Homo sapiens: one gene and its partners. The protein of the gene in region 1 interacts with the protein of each later gene in a pairwise test. Each region holds a gene or a part of one and is shown on either strand. Other genes may lie near its edges.

Region 1 (7,091 bases):
TGGGTGTTAGAGGGTAGAGCCCAGAAGACGGAGAGCTCTGGGAATGCATTCAGTCAACAGAGATTTGTCGAGCACCTTGTGCTAGCTCTTCCCAGTACTGGATGCAACTGTGAACAAAGCAGGCAGAAGCCCCTCTCCTTGTGGAGTTCATATTCTAACAGCGGGGACAAAGCCAGTAAGAAAAACTATCAAATGAACAAATATAATTTTAGGTGCCAGTAGAACAAGGGAGAACAATGAAATAGGGCAAGTGATAGAGAAAGGGCAGGGCCAGTGAGAGTTTAGGGAAGACTTCTGTAAAAGGTGCATTGGAGTTGGTATTTAAATTAAGAAGGGAGCCAGCCATGTGATAGGCCCTGAGATGGAAATGGGCTTGTATGTTGGAGGAACAGTAGTCGCCTGTGTGGCTTGAGTTGAATAAACGATGGTGAGAGGGGTTGAAGTTGCCTGAGAGGTGGAAACTAAATCCCATAGGCCTTGTAAAAGCATAGTAAGGACTTTGGCTTCGGCATCAGTTATCCATTGCTACATAGCAAACCACTTCAAAACGTGGTGGCACTTTGGGAGGCCGAGGCAGGTGGATCACTTGAGGTCAGGAGTTTGAGACCAGCCTGGCCAACATGGTGAAACCCCATCTCTACTAAAAATACAAAAATGGCTGGGTGCAGTGGCTCACGCCTTGTAATCCCAGCACTTTGGGAGGCCGAGGCAGGTGGATCACGAGGTCAGGAATTCGAGACCAGCCTGACCAACGTGCTGAAACCCCGTCTCTACTAAAAATACAAAAATTAGCCAGGTGTGGTGGCATGTGCCTGTAATCCCAGCTACTCAGGAGGCGGAGGTTGCAGTGAGCCGAGATTGCGCCACTGCACTCCAGCCTGGGCGACAGAGCGAGACTCTATCTCAAAATAAAATAAAAAATACAAAAAAAAAAATTATCCAGGCATGGTGGCACATGCCTGTAATCCCAGCTACTTGGGAGGCTGAGGCAGGAGAATCGCTTGAACCTGGGAGGTGGAGGTTGCAGTGAACAGAGATCGCGCCACTGCACTCCAGCCTGGGTGACAGAGCAAGACTCCAACTCAAAAAAAAAAAAAACCAAACCGTAGTGACTTGAAACAACAAACAACAGCCGTTGACATGCTTATGATTCTGTGGACAGGTTCAGGTGGGCCCGCTCGTCTACCTGGTGTGCTATCGGCTGGGTGTACACGTTTGCAGTCAGCTGATGGGTGAGCTGGCCTGGTCCCTGGCGGCCACACTCACCTGTCTGGCAGTTGACTGGGGCTATTGACCAGGGTGCCTTAGTTCTCCTCCACATGGCATCTCCAGTAGGCTAGCCAGGCTTCCTCACCTGGCAGCTGGGTTCCGAGAGGGCAAAAGTGGAAGCTGCAGTACTACCACTGTGTTCTGTTGGACAAGGGAAGTCACAGGCCACTCAGATTCCAGGGACTAGAAAAATACACCATGACCCAGTTCAGTGGCTCACGCTGCAATCCCAGTATTTTAGGAGGCCAAGGTGGGAGGACTGCTTGAGCCTAGGAGTTTGAGACCAGCCTGGACCACATGGCCAGACCCCGTCTCTACTAAAAATAAAAAAAAAATTAGCTGGGCCTGGTGGTACGCGCCTGTGGTCCTAGCCACTTTGGAGGCTGAGGTGAGAGGGTTGCTTGAGCCTGGGACGCTGAGGCTGCAGTAAGCCATAGTGGCGTGACTGCACTCCAGCCTAGGTAACAGGATGAGACCCTGTCTCACACACACAAAAAGAAATAAACTCTACCTCTTGATGGGAAAGTGTCAACATCACATTGAAAAGAGTTGAAAGGGATGGGAGGATTGTTTATAACTATCATTGCAAGCAGCCTACCACACCACATTGGATGGGAAGGTCTTGCAGGGTTTTGAGTGGAAGACTGATTTTTCAGAAGATCGCTCTGGCTGTTTTGAGACTAGAATGTTAGGGCCAAGAGTATAAACAAGGAGACCCATACTAAGTAGATGACTATAATAGTCTAGGGGAGATACTGAAGGAGCTTGAACAGAGGCAGTAGCGGTGGGGGTGAGAGGTGGTCAAATTCAGGATATATTTAGGAGCCCCAGTAGATAGGGTTTGGTAGAACGAGTGTGATGGGGGTGGGGTATAGAGAGAAGACAAGGCTAGCTTTTTGGCTTTCTTAACTGACTAGATAGTTCTATTGACTGAGATAGGGAAAATGAGTGAGCAGGTTTTGGGGGAAGTCAGGTGTTCTCTTTAGCACACGTAAAGTTTGAGATGCCTGTTGGATATCCAGTTGGAAATGCCAGTAGGCAATTGGATTTATAGGAATCAGGATGTAGTTTTGGGAACCAACCATTCATGTTGTATTGAAGGTTGTGGACTGGATGAGTGAGTGTTGCTAAAACAGAACAGATTTCTGAGGACTGCGCCTTGGCATTTTATGGTGTAATAAGAAGAACAAGGGTTTCAGAGTCATATAGACCAGAGTTTTAAATTCTGTCACTATTAGGTATTAGCAAATCACCATTACTTCTTCTTTTTTTATTATTGTTATTATTATTTTTTATCTTTTATTTGAGATGGAGTCTCACTCTTTCGCCCAGGCTGGAGTGCAGTGGCGTGATCTCGGCTCACTGCAACCTCCACCTCCCAGGTTCAAGCGATTCTTGTGCCTCAGCCTCCCCAGTAGCTGGGATTACAGGTGCCCGCCACCACACCCGGCCAATGTTTTTGTATTTTTAGTAGAGACGGGGTTTCACTATGTTGGCCAGACTGGTTTTGAACTCCTGACCTCAAATGATCTGCCCGCCTTTGCCTCTTAAAGTGCTGGGATTACAGGCGTGAGCCACTGTGCCTGGCCACCATTACTTCTTTGAACATCTGTTTTCTTAGCTGTAAAGTGCGTGTTGGAATACATACCTTGGGGGGTTTGTTTTTTTTGTTTTTTTAGAGATGGGGGTTTCACTCTGTTGCCTAGGCTAGAGTGCAGTGTCTTACAGCAGCCCTCCCGCCTCGGCCTCCCAAAGTGCTGGGATTACAGGTGTGAGCCACCACTCCCTGCCTACCATAGGGGCTTATAACTAAGATAATGTTAACTAAGTTAATTAATGTGACAGTTAACTAAGATAATGTTCAAAAGGTGCTGGTGGCCGGGCGTGGTGGCTCATGCCTGTAATCTTAGCACTTGGGGAGGCTTGAAGCCAGGAGTTTGAGACCAGCCTGGGCAACATAGCAAGACCCCATCACTACAGAAAATAAAAAAATTAGCCAAGTATTGTGGTGCATGCCTGTGGTCCCAGCTATTTGGGAGGCTGAGGTGGGAAAAATCACTTGAGCCTATGAGTTCGAGACTGTAGTGAGCCATAATTGTGTCACTCTACTCCAGCCTGGGTGACAGAGTGAGAACCTGTCTTAAAAGAAAAAAAATTTTAAAAAAGGTGCTGGCACCTGGGTCTTCCGTAAAGGGAAACTCCTGCCATCTGAGGAGCATGGGGCTTCTGAACTCAGGGCCTAGAATGGTAGTAGGATTTCTTGGAGATGGATCCTTTAGTTTTGGAGACCTGTGAAGCAGCCTTCACTGTTTCCTTCCTGTCTGTCTAGCTGTGCCCTCCTGGCTGAAGAAGCCCCAAGACAGCCAGCTGGAGGAGGGCAAACCCGGCTACTTGGATTGCCTGACCCAGGCCACACCAAAACCTACAGTTGTCTGGTACAGAAACCAGATGCTCATCTCAGAGGTGAGAAAGAAGAGTGTTGCTAGTGGATGGGCGGGGCCTTCCCTCCACTTGCCCTCTTCTGTGCTCACCTCCATAGCACTCTTACCCTGGAGGCAGCCTCCAGGGAGAGGTGGGTGTGGGTTCAGGCTCTGAGGCCTCTCACCTGTGCTGCAGGACTCACGGTTCGAGGTCTTCAAGAATGGGACCTTGCGCATCAACAGCGTGGAGGTGTATGATGGGACATGGTACCGTTGTATGAGCAGCACCCCAGCCGGCAGCATCGAGGCGCAAGCCCGTGTCCAAGTGCTGGGTGAGCCAGCATGTCTTGGGGGAGCACCCTTCCTGGCTAGGCAGGAGAGGAAAGGGGAGGGAGCAGCAGGCCTGGCCACGGCCTCTCCAGCGGCCCCAATTCCTCGTCTTTCTACCCACCCTCTGCTGAAACAGAAAAGCTCAAGTTCACACCACCACCCCAGCCACAGCAGTGCATGGAGTTTGACAAGGAGGCCACGGTGCCCTGTTCAGCCACAGGCCGAGAGAAGCCCACTATTAAGTGGGAACGGGCAGGTGGGTACAGTGCCGGCATAGGGTAGGGGCAGGCAGGCAGTTCACTGATCAGATACATACCTGAGGGCTGCTGGGTGCCCCGCACTGTGCCAGGAAATGTGGAGATTAGACAAGCAGTGCAGGGCTGATGTATAGTTTAGTTAGGAAGGAAAAAGCCAGACACAGAAGAGGTCAGATTATAGCCTTGGACAACATGGAAGACAACTCAAGGCAACAAGTGATTGGATTGGTTCAGACAGTGCTGTAAAGTCCTCTCTTCCCCTTTTCCAAAATAGTTTATCTTTTCCAACATAAAAATTACATGGAGGCCGTGCATAGTGGCTCACGCCTGTAATCCCAACACTTTGGGAAGCCGAGATGGGTGGGTCACTTGAGGCCAGGAGTTTGAGACCAGCCTGGCCAACATGGTGAAACCCCATCTCTACTAAAAATGCAAAAGTTAGCCAGGCGTGGTGGCACATGCTTGCAATCCCAGCTGCTTAGGAGGCTGAAGCAGGAGAATCGCTTGAACCCAGGAGGTGGAGGCTGCAGTGGGCCGAGATCATGCCATTGCACCAGAGTCTGGCTGACAGAGTGAGACTCTGACTCAAAAGAAAAAAGAAACAAAAGTTACATGGGCTCCTTTACAAAATACTGGAAGAGGCCGGGCGTGGTGGCTCACGCCTGTAATCCCAGCACTGTGGGAAGCTGAGGTGGGTGGATCACGAGGTCATGAGATAGAGACCATCCTGGCTAACATAGAGTAGTGAAACCTCGTCTCTACTGAAAATACAAAAAATTAGCCAGGGGTGGCGGCACGCATCTGTAGTGCCAGCTACTCGGGAGGCTGAGGTAGGAGAATTGTTTGAACCCAGGAGGCGGAGGTGGCAGTGAGCCGAGATTGTGCCACTGCACTTCAGCCTGGGTGGCAGAGCGAGACTCCATCTCAAAAAAAAAAAAAAAAATATTGGGAGAAAAAATGTACAGTCCTGCCGTTTATCATCTTTGGGTGTATGTCTTCTTTTTCTGTGCATATGTTTTTCTTTTTTTACCTAGCAGTTTTATTGTATATATAGTTTCAGTTATTAAATTTACATGATTGGCTGAGTGTGGTAGCTCATGCCTGTAATCCCAGCACTTTGGGAGGCCGAGGTGGGAGGATCGCTTGAGCCCAGGAGTTCAAGACCAACCTGGGCAATACAGGGAGACCCTGTCTGTACAAAAAATTTAAAAATTAGCCAGGCATGGTGGTGCATGCCTGTAGACATGCTTATTGTAGAATTAGACAATACAGATAACTATGTAGTTTTTAAAAATATTTTTTAAAATTATTTATTTTTATTTTTTTTGTAACGGTGTAATTTTATACCCTTTTTTACTTACCATTGTCAAGCATTTCCCCACATCTTTATACACTCTTCATGAATATTTGTTTTGATGATCCTAATAATATTTCAACAATTGGATTCACTGTAATTTACTTAACTGTTCCTTAAATGTTGGAGATTTGGGTTGTTAACCAGCCACCCACCCACCCCCTTTTTTTTCATTGCTGCAATAAACATCTTTAAGCCAAAGTTTTTTTCTGGATTTAGGTTTATTTCCTTTGGGAAAGATTCCCAGAATTGGGATAATTATGCACGAAAGGGGGTATGAACATTTTTATAGCCCTTGATGTGAGTTGCCAAATTATTTTTTAAAAGGTTGGACCAATTTTGACATTTCCACCTAGAGTGAGAGAGTACAGTTGTAGATTCTGAGGAGGAAGTAGGCTCCCTCTGCTCAGGTCTGGGGGAACTTTCTGGGAGAGGTGAGGCTTAAAATGGATCTACAGCCTGGGATGGTAAAGAGCGGGAATGGGCTCTAGGAGGGAGAAGTGATGGGCAGCGGAGTAGGAACAGGGCCGATCTGGGCCCAAACAGAGTCCGGTTTGGCAGACGTGGAATGTCACACAGGGCAGTAGGAGGAAGAGGTGAGACTGAAGAATTGGAAGAGGGGTAAATAACGGAGGGGCTTCTAACACTTGGCTCAGGAGTTTGGACTTTGCCTGTGGGTGGTCAGGAGCGATGGTGTGTTTTTGAGTAGAGGTGAGGGACTGAAGGCATTGCCAGCTGTCTGTGTAACCCTGATCCTTCCCATAATTTCCCTTTGTTACCCCTGCAGATGGGAGCAGCCTCCCAGAGTGGGTGACAGACAACGCTGGGACCCTGCATTTTGCCCGGGTGACTCGAGATGACGCTGGCAACTACACTTGCATTGCCTCCAACGGGCCGCAGGGCCAGATTCGTGCCCATGTCCAGCTCACTGTGGCAGGTGCGACCGTGGCAGGGCCCTGGGGCTGGGAGGGCCCTCTGGGGTAGCACCGTGTACCCTGCCAGCCCCTTGGCTTACCCCTCCCTGCGCCTCGCTGGTCTCTTTTCTTCCAGTTTTTATCACCTTCAAAGTGGAACCAGAGCGTACGACTGTGTACCAGGGCCACACAGCCCTACTGCAGTGCGAGGCCCAGGGGGACCCCAAGCCGCTGATTCAGTGGAAAGGCAAGGACCGCATCCTGGACCCCACCAAGCTGGGACCCAGGTAGGGCCACCTCTCTCCCACACCCGTCCCTCCTCTCCTGCAGCCCCCCTCCCTGCGAGCTGGCCAGCACTATGGCTTCTCCCCCGACAGGATGCACATCTTCCAGAATGGCTCCCTGGTGATCCATGACGTGGCCCCTGAGGACTCAGGCCGCTACACCTGCATTGCAGGCAACAGCTGCAACATCAAGCACACGGAGGCCCCCCTCTATGTCGTGGGTATGGGCTGGGGAGGGTTATGCTGCACAGGAAGTGGTGGGC
Region 2 (7,000 bases), on another chromosome or scaffold:
ACAGAGGTTCCCAGCAATGCCAAGAGACATGCCCAAATGCCCAAGGGGACCAGGCTTGTGAGGACTCATGTGAATTGCCCTAGTGAGCTTCTTAAATGTCATGAAATTTTCAGAGGCACTGAAAGAGCTGCCAGATGTGTCTCTGGATTTGCATAGAGAAGTGAAGCATCATGAAAAAGTTTCTATAACTGAATTCTGAGTTTTCTTGTGAACTATGGGTCTCCAAGGGAGTCAAACTGAAGCTATAAATAATAGGTCACCTGAGGTAAAATCAGCAGCGAGAAGAGTCCTGGAAAAGCAGGGTCAGCTGAGTAGCCTGGGTTTTAGGGGAGTGGTGAGTAGTTCAATGAATAGGTTGTGGCTGCATGTGACCTTTTCCATTATGTTCTTCCCATACCCATGCCCCTCCTTCTATCCCTTTACATTCAAACACCCCTGTCTTGGCTGGTGTCTGCAGAACCACAGGCAGCCTTCCACATGGACCTACAGCCCAATGGTCTAGAAATTCCATGGGCTACAAATGGTAAATAGGATAGTATCAGTTGGTCAGTAGAGAAGAAGGATGGCCAGAGGAGTAGACAACAGATGGGAAGCCTATAGACCTATGAGCAGCATCCCTCGTCCATGCTTGAGCTTTTCACCCTTTGTGGGTCCCTAGAGGGATTAATTAGGAAGATGTATCCTAGGACAAGTCTAGACTGCCTGCTAAGCAAGGCAGTGCAGTAGGAACTAGGCACTTCAGATTTATGATGTTTATGTAAATGTTACACATTTTCAGTCACAATCAGGCATATCCAAGAGAAATTTTTATTTCACATTCATTTAAGTAGAACTTGCTGAAGACATGATGCTAGAATTCATGTTTAGATGAAACTTTTAGAAAAGGCATTGGGAGAGATATCTGCAGGGAGGTAGATATTTTCGAGCTTCATAGTCCACTACAAACCTGCACATATGGTCAGGCTCCTGCCTATAGCATACAGATGAAAACTATCAAGAAAAGGCTCAACTGAAAAAAAAAAAAAAAAACCACTCAGAATCCAGAATGTATCTAGGTGTGTATGCTTACCCAGTATTGGCATAAACATAAAAAGAATAAGAAATTCCTCCAAGGTACAATTAACCATTTATCATCTCCTTAGTCTAATCACGTAATGCCTAACACTTCTATGACACTCTCTAAGACTGCAAGTTTGGATATATTATCCCACTTAACTCTCAACTACTATGGAATTCTGCTAAAAAGTTATCTAGAAACATGACATTTCCCCTTGTTTAAATTTTCTCCTTTCTTCTGTTTAAGCTACTTTATTTTCTTCAGGGAGAATTTTAAAAATACCACCTTGAATCAAGAAGACAAAGAAACTAAATTGCTTATGATTGAAAGCCATACATTTACATTAATGGATTGATGGTCTTTCAACCTAACTAACTCACTATGATATTATGTTTGATCATTTTTCCCAGATAAGTGAAAGTCACCCAGTGGTGAACTGATTCTGTGCATTTATTGCTTCCTTTTCTCTCCAGTATGCCTCAGGAATTGGATCATTAGTACAGTGAAATAGCTGTAGAGTCTTGCTCTGTACATATTGCTGTACAGTCCAGTGAATCACTGTGAGATGCTTTTACTCTGTGCTCATTAAATGCTCCTTTCCAAAGAATCAGTAGTTTAGGACTGCCTGAGGCCAGTCTTCTCATTTAAGTCAGAAAATGGACATTGCTTTAGATCTGAAAAAAAGGAAATAAAAAATAAAATAGAAATAGGAAAAAATAATTCATGTCCCCAATGAACTTGGCATTTGCTAAGTTCTAGACTGCTGCATAATATAAATAATAGTTTTGCTTTGTTGTTGGTCCATGTGGCTGCAATTTTAATGGACATCAACATCTTAATATATTAAAATCAAATGAGATTTGATTATGAGGAAAGTTTATGCAGTCATTATGAATAAAAATGATTTAAGTGGAAAGTGCTAATGTTTATAATATAAATTTGCTAATTGTCCTTTTGTGGCAAATATCATTACTATAGTAGGCACTTATAGTTACATTATATGGTACATAAGCATTAGGAAATTTGATCTTAAAATAATATTTTAGCATTACATCTTTATTTTTCGAAACTACTAACATCCTTTATGTTGGGAAACATCAATGCTACTCTAAGTGTGTCAGCATTTGTAAATGCCTTGAAGATGAAAAATGCACTCATGGGCCAAGTAGAATCTTTCAAATCCCCTTTTAAAGGAAAAAATGGCTTTCACTAGCTTTTGAATTTGACTCACAGAACAACTTTTAAGATTTAACAATAAACTTGCCATAAAATATAACATCCGTGTTATCTCTAATACTAATGGCAATGAATGGGCTTTTGATTTGTGATCTGATCATCTCACATAAAGCGATTTTTAAATAATTCACAAAATAGTCTCCATTCTTCAGGTGTAAGAATGTCTTCTATGAGAAAAAATATGTGGGATCCAAAAACTTTATGGTTCTATAAAGACTGTATACACACAAAATGAGAGAAAAAATGTATACAACCACTCAAATATTCAGACATTTTGTGTGATGATTTGGTTTTTAATTCAGAGAGAAAAGGAGGGTTGAATAATTTTTGGTCTTGATTTATTGAAGCCACTGTCTCACACTCCCACCTGATTTTGAATGTGTAAATGTCTTGTATTTGCTATAGGTAGATAATAACCAATCAGTAATCAGGGTTAGGAGTTCCGGGTCCATTCTGTAGTGGACAACTATCATGCTATGTTGTTTATCTAACTCTTTGAGCTCTTTAAAGTAAAAAAAAAATCTCATTCTATTCTTAAGTAGTACTGGAAAATCATGCAAGAATGTCTATCCATCTAGAAAGAGTTCAGCACACAAGTACACTACAAATAGCATCATGCCCATGGGACACAAACTTATCTTATGGAGTGTATTTACATAGAAAATTTTCTGTCCCATCTCCATTTCCTTGTTGTCAATAAGTGTAAATTGCACTAAGGTGGCAGTAGTAAAGTCAATTACCTTCTTTATGGTCATGAAGATGAGATATAATCTCTTGGTCAATGTAAATTAATTTATCACAATTCATTTTAACAAATATATTTAATATATGTATTCATTCATTGAACACTTACTGATGCCATATTAGGTAACAAGCATAGTTCTAGGGAATAAGTATATAGAAATAAAGCTGCAATTGTGTTATTGTTCTCAAAAAACTTCAGTATACAGGTTAAGTACATTGACAGGGGAATATACAGGATTGAAAAGGGAAATGTAGGAGAGCTACTTGAATGAGGTGAGTCATCCAAAAAAAAGAAGATTCTCAAAGTGGGCTATGCCTGATCAACATTTGAAGTTGGAGAAAGAGTCATCTAAAAAAAGGAGCAGAGTATTGGTATTTAAGAGAAATAGAACAGTATGTGAAATGATTCAAGACATGGCAAACCAAAGGAAATTTTGTCTTAGTGTGATATTAGTGTGCAAAGGAGGGCAAGATGAGAAGACCTCATCGCAAAAGACTGCCTTCCTAATGAGTTTGGAGTTTATTCTAAAAGAAAAGGAGATAGCTGTATTAAAGAATTTTTTGGAGAAAGAATATGATCAGGTATGCTTTTAAGAGTTTCACCTCCGACATTATTATAAAGAATAAATTTGATAGGAGGTCATCACAAGATATTATGTGAGAAATAAGGATCTGTCTCAAGGCAGTGACATGATCATGGAGAGTGGAGAACATCTTATGAGAAGAGTTTGAAACCTTTAAGATGAAAGTAGCAAAGGGATGATCTAGGATCAATTATTTGTTTCAGACCTGGGTCATTGTGAAGAATCCTGGTGTTATTCACAATGTTAGGGAATATTTATCAGAGTAATTGTGTTGAGAAGTGTTGAGTAAAAATAGTTGTATATAAGATTATTGTGGGGCCAGGTACTGTGGCTCACACCTGTAATCCCAGCACTCTCTGAGGTTGAGGCAGGAGGACTGCTTGAGCCCAGGAGGTCGAGGCTGCAGGGAGCCATGATTGCACCACTGCACTCAAGCTTGGGCAACAGAGTGAGGCCCTGTCTCTAACAACAACAACAGCAACAACAACAACAACAAAAACAAAAAGATTACTATGGAATATACAATGACTTCTAGGTAATTTTAAATATAGAACCAGAGTTCAGGGGAGATAACTGAGATGGAAATGTGGATTTTGGAATCTTTGACGTGCAAGTCTGAGTATAATTATCCAGGGAGATTGTATACAGAGAAAAATAACAAAAAATCAATGACAAGCTGTAGAGAGCACTAACCATTAAATAATACACAGCAGAAGACCTAAAAGTACAAATTGAGAAATGGCTGGAGAAATAAGAGGGAAGCTAGGAAGTAATGACTGTCTGTGGAAGTCAAGTGAGGAAAAATTTTAAAATTCAGAAAGGGGTCAAAATATATAAGTACTATAGAAATGCATTGATAACAAGAACATACATTACAATAACCTCTTTAATTATGTTCAACCATAGGATGATAGGATGAGGACGGAAGCTGATAGAGAAGTAGGTGAGAAATAAAGAAGAAAAGGCTGAATGTGCATAATGCATCCCAGAATTTTTACAAGGTGTTAGGTAGGATGTGATTTTCAATGGAATATGTGAGGTGCTATTCTATTGGAGGTGCTAGAAATATGTCATCTCCAATATACATATTCCTGTGTCTCTTAAGTACCAAAGAAGCAAATCAGTTTTTTCTAGTGTATTAGACTCTCTGTTTGTAAATCAGCTGATCCCTGTAGCCATTCCTACATGTACAAGGCATTTCACTGAGAAGTGAAAATGTAGCCAATCAGCAAAGAATTTGGGCTGCACAATATCTGGCAATCAGTTTGAAAGACTTTTTTCACTGAGTTGATTAGTAGTTCTGGTCTAACACAAACCCATCCTTTATTGCCCTTCAGTTCACAATGACAGCAAAATCTGTTAGAGATAGTGTGTTTTGGGGGCATGTGAGGCAACATGAGTTTTGGACAAATGAGCTGTTTAAGTCCATTCCAGAAGTGGCTAAGTGGACTATGTGTGTTTTTTGTGGGTGTTAAGAAGATATTAAATGCAAAAAGAAGAGACCAGAAATATCACTGTATTACATTATTTATTTAACTTATTTATTTAATCTTTAGAAAGATTTTATGTCAGGAACTGCCCCCAGGTACTAGGTAGCCCAAGACCTCTAATACATGCAATAATAAACAAAACAGGCAAAAATATGTGCCCTAAATGGGCTTACATTTTAATACAGAGAGGGGAAACTACAATAAAAAAAGTAAAATATATTGTATGTTGGGTGGTGAAGACCTCTGGGGAAAGAAAAGTTAGGCAGGGAAAGGGTGCTAGAATTTTTATCTGGGTGATGGGGGGAAGGGAAAATGAAATATGAAATAGAATAACCTCATTAACAAGGTAATATTTAATTAAAGTTCTAAAATTATTGTGGGATTAAGCTGTGGAGACACCTGGAGAAAGAAAAAAGCAAAACAGTATGAAAGGGTGAGTGCCTGGCATCTTCTAGAAACAGAAGGATAAATATGGCTGGAGAGAGGTAAAAAAAGAAGAAAGTAGTGAGAGATAATATCATAGAAATAATGTGGAGAGAGACTCTAGACCATTGTAAGGTCTATATTGAGTGATTTTCAATAGGAAAAACAAATTCTGGAGTTCTAAGGAACATCTTAAAATCTTAAAATATATCATTTACCTGTTAGTCTATCGTTTCTTTTGAGGGTGGTACTTCTGCAAATCATCTCCCAGATCTTCTTGGCACCATCATAGAATACCTTTCTTCTCAGAGACTAGAGAAATTGACTATGCACTTCTCTGAGAGATTTTCAATAGGAAAAACAAATTCTGGAGTTCTAAGGAACATCTTAAAATCTTAAAATATATCATTTACCTGTTAGTCTATCCTTTCTTTTGAGGGTGGTACTTCTGCAAATCACCTCCCAGATCTTCTTGGTACTATCATAGAATACCTTTCTTCTTAGAGTCTAAGGAAATTGACTATGCACTTCTCTGAGAGTGAAGAGATAGTTTCAGGAGATACATTGAAGGCAGTCTTTGTGCCATTCAAAAAGGCTGATAGCAAGAACAACACAGAAATTTGAAAGAACCTTTTCCAGAACTCAAAGAGAAAGCAATGGATTGAAATCAGTTTCTGTATTTTGTTAGCAAAACATTCCCTAGGAAAAAGAAAGCTTTCACATGAGAATTTTTAATATATCTCAAAAATGTACTCTTTTGCAACTAAAATACAACACTATAAATAATATCTCCTCAAATGGAATATGCTTCTTTGGACAAAGGAAGAGGAGAAATGCTGAAGAAAATAAGCTCTGTGGATCTTCCACATAATATTTTTTTACCATTCGTATTATTGTGGTGGCTTTTAATTGCCTCCTTGAATATTCCTGAAGTGGTATTTTCAACTGGAGTTTATATATTAAACTGGTTCACGAAAGAGTAAAGAATAAGGACAGTTAGGTAAAAAGTATTTTGCACCACTAACTTAATCAATGGTGGCCTCACCTATTGTAGAACCAGTGTATAATTTTATATAGTATGCAACCACGGGTCTGGAAACCTGGGCTTTTATCCCGACTATGCTATTAACTACCACTTTAATACTCTAGATCTTCATTTTCTCACCTGTAAAATAAGCAGTTGGATGGACAATAACCACAACTTCCTTGTTAGGTGATCTATAAAAATCGGCTGCCATGGGTAGAGTAGTGTCCAGCTTCTCTAACAAGAACCATGCTTAGTAATCCTTTAGTGTTAATTTACCCAGAGATGCCACTTACACAGCATGGTACCCACTCCTCATTTTTCTCCCACAGCTATTATAGACCACAGTACTTCTCCCTAGCCAGAATGCGAGTCATAATCTTCTTTTTCCCCCCGATGGTGTCTTAGGCAACCATAAGCAAAATAATGGGAGATGGCACTC
Region 3 (7,878 bases), on another chromosome or scaffold:
TAGCCCTAATGAAGGGAGTAGAGACAAGGGTTCCTACTCTGTCAACTGTTCCATGATAATAGTAATGCCAATGGTAATAATAATAATAATGTACTGTGTTCCAGTCTTTCTACTAGGTATTTGAAACATGTCCTCTCATTTATTCTTACTACAGACCTACAGAGGGTTTTTTTTCCTCCCTATTTCATAGATGATGAAACTGAGGCCCAGAGAAATTTAAAAACTTGCTCAAAGTCAGTGGCAGAAACCACATCCCACAAGGCCTCCTTGTGTGCCATGCTAAGCAGGTTGGACATTTTCCTAAAGGTGTTGGTGAGTGTATGAATTTCCTGTTGCTGCTTGTAATCACAACAAACAAAGTGACTTAAAACAACACAAATGTAGTATCTTAGAGTTCTTGAGGTCAGAGATGTGAAATGGGTCTCACTGGGCTAAAATGAAGGTGACGGCAGGGTTGAGTTTCTTTCGTAAACTCTAGGATAATCTGTTTCCTTGCCTTTTCCACTTGCATCCCTTGGCTGTGGGCCCCCTTCGATCTGCAAACCCAGCAATTACACCACTCCGACTTCTGCTTCCGTCATCTCATCCCCTCTGATTCCTACTCTCCTGCCTCCCTCTTTCACTAATAATGACACTTGTGATTATGTTGGGCCCCTCTGAATAATCCATCATAATCTCCCCATCTCAAGATCAGCTGGCTGGGCGCGGTGGCTCACGCCTGTAATCCCAGCATTTTGGGGGGCCAAGGTGGGTGGATCACTTGAGGTCAGGAGTTCAGGACCAGCCTGGCCAACACGGTGAAACCCCTTCTCTACTAAAAATACAAAAATTAGCCAGGCATGGGTGGGCACCTGTAGTCCCAGCTGCTCTTGAGGCTGAGGCAGGAGAATAGCTTGAACCTGGGAAGCAGAGGTTGCACTGAGCCGAGATTGCACCATTGCACTCCAGCCTGGGCGACAGAGTGAGACTTTGTCTCAAAAAAAAAAAAAAAAAAAAGATCAGCTAATTAGCAACTTTAATTCCATCTGCAGCCTTAATTCTACCCTTTGCCATGTAATATAACATTCACAGTTACAAGGAAATAGAGTGTAAACACCTTTGGGGGGACCATTATTTTGTCTACCACAGTAATCCACTAAAGGGCTTTAAGCAAGGGAATGACAGGGTGAGACCCACATTTTAGCATCTTCCTATTATTGGTTTTGTAAAATGGTCATTTCATGATTTAAGACAGATTGGGCTTTGTAATAACTAATACTTCCAAAGGCTGAACAGTACATAGATATTAAATATGTTAGGTCTAATAACACATATGGGCTTTTAACTTGAAAGAATTCTTTCCTACATGTAATTTGTATCTTTCCCCTTAGCACTCAGTGGGAACACAAAGGACTGTTACAATTGCCCCTCTATGGGTAAATTAAGGGACATTGGCTCACCCGCCTAGGATCGCAGAGCTGCTAAGGCCAGGGCCATGGTAAGGAGCTAGTCTTCAGGCTCGTTTATCAGTGTTTTCTTTCTCTTTCTTTCTTTCTTTCTTTCTTTCTTTCTTTCTTTCTTTCTTTCTTTCTTTCTTTCTTTCTTCCTTCCTTCCTTCCTTCCTTCCTTCCTTTCTTTCTTTTTCTTTCTTTCTTTCTCTTTCTTTCTTTCTTTCTTCCTTCCTTCCTTTTTCTTTCTTTCTTTCTTTCTTTCTTTCTTTCTTTCTTTCTTTCTTTCTTTCTCTCTCTCTCTTTCTTTCTTTCTTTTGTCTTTTTTTTTGACAGGGTCTCACTCTGTCATCCAAGCTGAAGTACAGTGATGTGATCACAGGTCACTGCAGCCTCAACCTCAAGCAATCCTCCCACCTTGGCCTCCAAGTAGCTGGGACTACAGGTTCGTGCCACCACACCCGGCTAATTTTTTGTTTTAGTTTGTTTGTTTGTAGAGACGAAATTTCGCCATGTTGCCCAGGCTGGTCTCCAACTCCTGGGCTCAAGCGATGTTCCCGCTTCAGCCTCCCAAAGTGCTGGGATTACAGGCATGAGCCACCACGCCCAGCATCAGCATTTCTTTACAGCATCCATGGGTCGGGCATTTGGGGAAACTTAAGTCAGCACATCTTTGGCACAATTTCCTACATATAGCTCAGTGCCCAATAAACGTGTTGAATTGGTGAACACCCCTGCTTTCATTTCTGTGACACAGATAGTGACTTTCAAGGCAGGAAGCCTGGGGGCCATCCTAAAATTCCTTCCTTCCCCCCACATCCAGTCAATCTGCAAGTCCTTTCAGCTGCCCTGTGAAAATATTCATATATGCTGAGTCCATCCCCTTCTTTCCAGCTTCTCGGGTCCCACTCTATCCCAGGTCACTGTCACCTCTTACCTGAGCTGCTGCAGTGGCCCCCATAAAGGAAAGGGTCAGTGAGGGGTCGAAGTATTTGACTTAAATAAATCAGATGACCTGGCCTCCCAGGTTAAATTTTCCTGTTGGATTTTTATCCGACAGAAGAGAAGGAAAACTTTAACTCCCAATCATGGCCATATGTGCTCCTGCATGCTCCGGCCCTGAACCGTCCTCTTAACACCTCCTGTAGCTCCCTCTACTCCAGTCCCACTGGCTTTTTACAGAGGCCAAGCTATTCCCATCATAGGGCTTTTGCCCATGCTGTTCCTTCTGCTGGAAATACTCTCTCCACTCTTTTTCTTTTTCGTGTGTGTTATTTTTTATTTTTTTGAGACAAGGTCTCGCTCTGTCACCCAGGCTTGAGTGCAGTGGTGCGCTCATGGCTCACTGCAGCCTCCACCGCCTGGGCTCAAGTGATCCTCCTCCGCCTGGGCTCAAGTGGTCCTCCCACTTCAGCTTCCTGAGTAGCTTGGACTACAGGTCCCGGCTAATTTTTTTTTTTTTTTTGTAAAAGCAGGGTCTCCCTATGTTTCCCAGGCTGGTCTCAAACTCCTGGGCTCACACAGTCCTCCTGCCTTGGCCTCCCAAAGTTCTGGGATTACAGACCTGAGCCATCATACCCAGCCAAATTTATTTTAGAGATGGGGTTTTAGTATATTGCTTAAGCTGGTCTCAAACTCCTGGGCTCAATTGATCCTCCCACCTCAGCATCCCCATGTGTTGGGATTACAGGCATGAGCCACTGCGCCTGGCTTTCCACTCTTTAAACAGCTGGGTCCTTCTTATATATCACCTCTCAGCTCAAATGCCACTTATTCAGAGAGGTTCTCCCTGTCTGCTTTGTTTCCTTCATAGAAAACTGGGACCATTTGTAAATAATTTATTTGTTTGCCTATCTTGTTTGCCTTCCCTCCTAGATCTGAGATGTCTAATATGTAGCTACTAGCTGCATATGGCTAGTAAGCATTTGGAATGTGACTTGTCTGAATTGAGATGTGCTGTAAATGTAAAAGACACCAGATTTTGAATAGTTAATACAATTTAAAAAGGATATAAAATATCTCATTTATAGTTTTAAAATACTGACTATATGTTGAAATGATATTTTGGATATATTGAGTTAAATAAAAATATTATCAACAATTAACTTGTTTCTACTTTTTAAATGTGGCTGCACATGTGGCTGGCATTATATTTCATTTGGACAATGCTGGTCTATACCATTAGCTAATGAAGGTAGGAACAATCTCTACCCACTGCTGTGTCCCTAGTCTCTATCATATACTAGATGCTCAGTAAGTATTTACTGAATAATTTGGTATTTATGAGAACTCTGGGCTTTTATGAGAGCTGAGACGGGCAGCCCCATGTATGCTATGAACTTGAGGGAGGAAGAAACAGTTTTATTTTTCTCCAATCACTGTATTTCAAAGGGCTCTGTGGATTCTCTCTGTCCTGCTCTCTATCCACAATCCCCAGTCACCTACTACTATAGATTGAGGGGTGGGGGTGATGGCTGAAGGAACAAAGCTGGTGCAGCTGCTTCTATTTCAGTCCTATAGGAAGTGTCTTGATTATTTTACATTCTCCAGCTTTGGTCCTAGAAGCCAGGAAGGGCTCACCTCAACATCCTCAGAAACACAGATAGGGTTAGCTGGGGGTCACGGGGACTTTCCCAGGGTCATCTAGCAGGTCAGAGGTGAACAGGGCCTCAAACCTTGGTCTCCAGACCCCTTCCAGGACCCTGACCTCTAGCTATTAATACATCCTGATGTAGTCTCCTTCAGACTGGAACCCTCCCTCAAACCCCTCTCCCAACATTCACCTGTAATTTCTTGGGGCACCTAATGGCAGTTGTGCCTGGTCCCAGCAGAGCTTCCCTGGATGGCACCATCCCTCCTAGGGGCCGAAATGGATGGAAGGAAGGAGTGAGAGGATGGATGAATGGATGGGAAGATGGACGAGTGAATGAGTGAACAGGAGGGTGGGAGAATGGATGGGAAAGGAGGAAGGCTGGTTGGTAGGGTGTCTCTGCACGGGTGGAGAGGATGTATCGGAAGGAATTACCCACTTATCCCGTTCCAAGCAGACTCTGAAGAGCAGAGAGCCCTCGGCGATCAAAGTCCAGCCCCGTCACGTTTCTGCTAGAAGCCGAGGCGGGAGAAGTTGGGTGCTTTCCCCCGGGGCCCGCAGGGACGTCCAGGCAGAGCCGGAAGGGGGACGGGAGTTTGTGGGCCGGCCGGGGGGCTCTAGGCGACATCCCCCCATCCGCCCGCGCCTGCCGGTGCCAGGGTGGGGTAAGGCCCCCGCCCCCACCTCCGGAGGTGGCGGCCCCACGCGGCCCCAACAAACTGCCGTTGTCCCGCGGGCCGTGGGCCCGGCACACTGGGGCTTTGTCCGGCCCCCCGCCGCGACCCGAGGCGGGGGCCCCACATGACCGAAGGGGTAGGAGGAGCCTGCGGCGGCGGCGGTGGCAGCGGCGGCTCCACCACCATTTCCCTCCCGGGCCGGGGGTCGGCGGGCGGTGGCGGTGGCTGGGCAGGGCTGGGCAGGGCCGCGGACGCCAGGCCCCCCGTTCCCCGCCAGGCTGCAGGCGTCGGGCCTGGGCCGTCAGGGCAGCTGTGACCGGATCGCTTCCCGGGCGGCGAGCTGGGGGTGCACCCGGACCGCCGCCCCCGGGATCATGGGCAATGGCATGACCAAGGTAGGGGGCGGGCCCCGCGCAGCCTCCCCGGTCCCCGCCCCGGCCGCCGCGGCCCGGCGCTGACCAGCTCGGTCCGCCCGCCTCTGACCTTCTGTTCTCGCCGGTCTCCGTGCGGCGGCATCTCCGTGTCCCTGTGACTCGAGACCGCGGCTGTCGGGTCTCCCCCTCTCTGACCCTGCGTCTCTGTCCCCGCTGTGTCCGCCCTCTCTCCGTGACTCTGTGTGTCTCTCGCTGTCTTGCTGTGGCTGTCACTCCCAGGCTGTCTCCCAGTGAGTCCTGCTCTCCGTCTGCATGTGTCCCTCTCCCTTGTCGCTGACTCCTCGGCTCTCTCCGGGGCTGTTTCTCCATCCTGTCCCGCCTCTGCCTGTCATTGCCTTTCTGCCTCCCCAGCCCCAGAATTTCCATCCCTGCACCCTGCAAGTCTACCTCTCTCCTCTCCTCTCCTCCTAAGACCTGCCTTCCTCCTCTCCCCTCTCATACCCAAGCTGGCCTCCCTTGGTTCCCTCGGTTGGTTAACTGGCCCCCTAGCCTACCCTCCCCAGAGCCCCAGACCCCTCTCACAGAGGACTCAGGGCCCACAAAAGGGAAGAGAGTGCTCCCTGAGCCCTGAGGTCCATACCCTTCATGGGACAGAGAGGGGCTGTGGGCCCCCCAGCTGCCCTGGGGGTGGAAGGGGGTGCAGCCCCTGCCCCACTGACCCTTGCCTGTCCTTCCTCTAGGTACTTCCTGGACTCTACCTCGGAAACTTCATTGGTGAGCACTGCCCACTCTGTCCCGAGGCCATGGCACTCTGCCTGTCTCAGGCCTGTGTCCACCATTCATGCCCTGGCCCATGCATCTCAGGAATGGGGTTGGGGGCAGGGAAGCGGCCCCAGGCTGGGAGGGGGAAAAGGCTGATGGAGGACAAGGGGTGCACATGCAGGCGAGTGTCCCCAGGCTTGAAGGGACATGGAGGGAGCATGGGGGCCTGACACTGACATCCCTCCCCGCCATTCAGCCTTCCCCAGTGTTCTACCACCAGACCAAAGGGCCAGAGCAAAGGGCTCGGGGCCTGGGCTGTGGACCTGAGCAAGTCTACACCTGCGCTAAGCCTCAGCCTCCTCCTCAGCACAAAAGGTCCACCAGCTGCTGAGCACTCTTCTGGCCCTGAGGTTCTGGGTTGAGGTCTGTTTGCGGGTGCTGCTTCTAGCGGGGAAGCTGGGAACTCTTCCCCCCATAACTTCCTCCTTGTCAGAGGAGAGGTCCCTGGAGATGGGCTGGGCCTTCTTGTGAGCAGGGTCATGAGCACCAACACTGTCGCACCCCAGAGCCCTGGAGCAGCTGGGCAGCCTAGAGCTGGAAGTTGGGGGGGCGGTGAGCCGGCAAGCTTTGCATTCCCCACTCTCTCATCCATTCCTTCCACAATCTTCAGTCAGGAGGAGGGGACACCCATGTATAGATACCTTGTTCTTCAGGGGCTTCCAGGCTGGTGGCAGGCAGGCAGAGCTGAACATAGACCTTGGGTAGAAAACATGCTGGGTAGAAACCATGCTAAGGGGGCTGGGCGCAGTGGCTCACGCCTTTAATCCCAGCACTTTGGGAGGCGGAGGCGGGCAGACCACCTGAGGTCAGGAGTTCGAGACCAGCCTGGCCAACATAGTGAAACCCCGTCTCTACTAAAAATACAAAAATCAGCCAGGCACGATGGCAGGCGCCTGTAATCCCAGCTACTTGGGAGGCTGAGGCAGGAGAATCACTTGAACCCGGGAGGCGGGGGTTGCAGTCAGCCGAGATCGTGCCACTGCACTCCAGTCTGGGCAACAGAGCGAGACTCTGTCTCAAAAAAAAAAAAAAAAAAAAAGAGAAAGAAAAAAGAAAAGAAAACATGCTAAGGGGCAGACTGATCCAGGGCTTGGGTGACTCAAAGTGGGAAAATCATTTCCATCTGCAGAGTCAGAAAAAGCTTTAGAGAGGGAGGGGCTCAGGTGCTTCACCCTTGTAAATCCTGGTCCCTTCCTTCCTGGGAGCTCCCTCAGCCGCTCATGCCACCTTGATTTCTGTGAGTATTTGGCCAAGTAAGGTCTGAACCCTCTGTAAGTGTGCAGGCCCCATAAGGGCAGGAGCCACGAAGCTGGCCCCAGACCTCCAGTGCCCAGCCAAAGTATACACATGGTTAGCACTCGGTAAATGCTCATCGAATGAGGAAGTGGAGATAGAGGGGACATGTGTTATTCATTCTGAATATAAAAGATCTGCATATGCTGGGTATGCAGCCCCTAGAGAGGGCCACTGTTGGGTACATCCTTGTTCATATATCTTTGTAGATAAGGACATAGTATTTAAAACAAAAGTGGAAGCTTATTCTGTATCCTTAAAAATACATTGTGGGCATCAGCCGGGCACGATGGCTCACGCCTGTAATCCCAGCACTTTGGGAGGCCAAGGCGGGCGGATCACGAGGTCAGGAGATCGAGACCATCCTGGCTAACACGGTGAAACCCCGTCTCTACTAAAAATGCAAAAAAATTAGCCGGGTGTGGTGGCGGGAGCCTGTAGTCCCAGCTACTCCGGAGGCTGAGGCAGGAGAATGGCGTGAACCCGGGAGGCAGAGCTTGTGGTCAGCCGAGATCGCGCCACTGGACTCCAGCCTGGGAGAGAGAGCAAGACTCCGTCTCAAAAAAAAAAAAAAAAAAAAAAAAAAAAAAACATTGTGGGCATCATTGCACATCAGCATATAGAACTCTTTTTAATGGCGGCACACTGTGCCAAAGTATGCCTACACCATTAATCATCCAGTCCCTTTTTAATGA

Evidence for each region.
Region 2: the proteins of PTK7 (region 1) and PTPRR interact in a two-hybrid assay, tested with the Homo sapiens proteins (one study listed by BioGRID and IntAct).
Region 3: the proteins of PTK7 (region 1) and DUSP15 interact in a two-hybrid assay, tested with the Homo sapiens proteins (one study listed by BioGRID and IntAct).

What each region holds. Positions count from the first base shown.
Region 1 is NC_000006.12:43,135,251-43,142,341, forward strand, and holds part of PTK7 (inactive tyrosine-protein kinase 7 isoform a precursor), read left to right. Parts: intron 1-3,598; coding exon 3,599-3,732; intron 3,733-3,885; coding exon 3,886-4,021; intron 4,022-4,155; coding exon 4,156-4,275; intron 4,276-6,417; coding exon 6,418-6,567; intron 6,568-6,680; coding exon 6,681-6,831; intron 6,832-6,921; coding exon 6,922-7,049; intron 7,050-7,091. UniProt on the Homo sapiens protein: Inactive tyrosine kinase involved in Wnt signaling pathway. Component of both the non-canonical (also known as the Wnt/planar cell polarity signaling) and the canonical Wnt signaling pathway.
Region 2 is NC_000012.12:70,910,739-70,917,738, forward strand, and holds part of PTPRR (receptor-type tyrosine-protein phosphatase R isoform 1 precursor), read right to left. Parts: intron 1-7,000. UniProt on the Homo sapiens protein: Sequesters mitogen-activated protein kinases (MAPKs) such as MAPK1, MAPK3 and MAPK14 in the cytoplasm in an inactive form.
Region 3 is NC_000020.11:31,867,528-31,875,405, reverse strand, and holds the start of DUSP15 (dual specificity protein phosphatase 15), read left to right. Parts: upstream 1-4,878; 5' UTR 4,879-5,068; coding exon 5,069-5,089; intron 5,090-5,174; exon of another isoform or gene 5,175-5,596; intron 5,597-5,616; exon of another isoform or gene 5,617-5,700; intron 5,701-5,808; coding exon 5,809-5,842; intron 5,843-6,005; exon of another isoform or gene 6,006-6,253; intron 6,254-7,878. Other genes in the region: probable tubulin polyglutamylase TTLL9, read right to left, coding at 4,211-4,279. UniProt on the Homo sapiens protein: May dephosphorylate MAPK13, ATF2, ERBB3, PDGFRB and SNX6.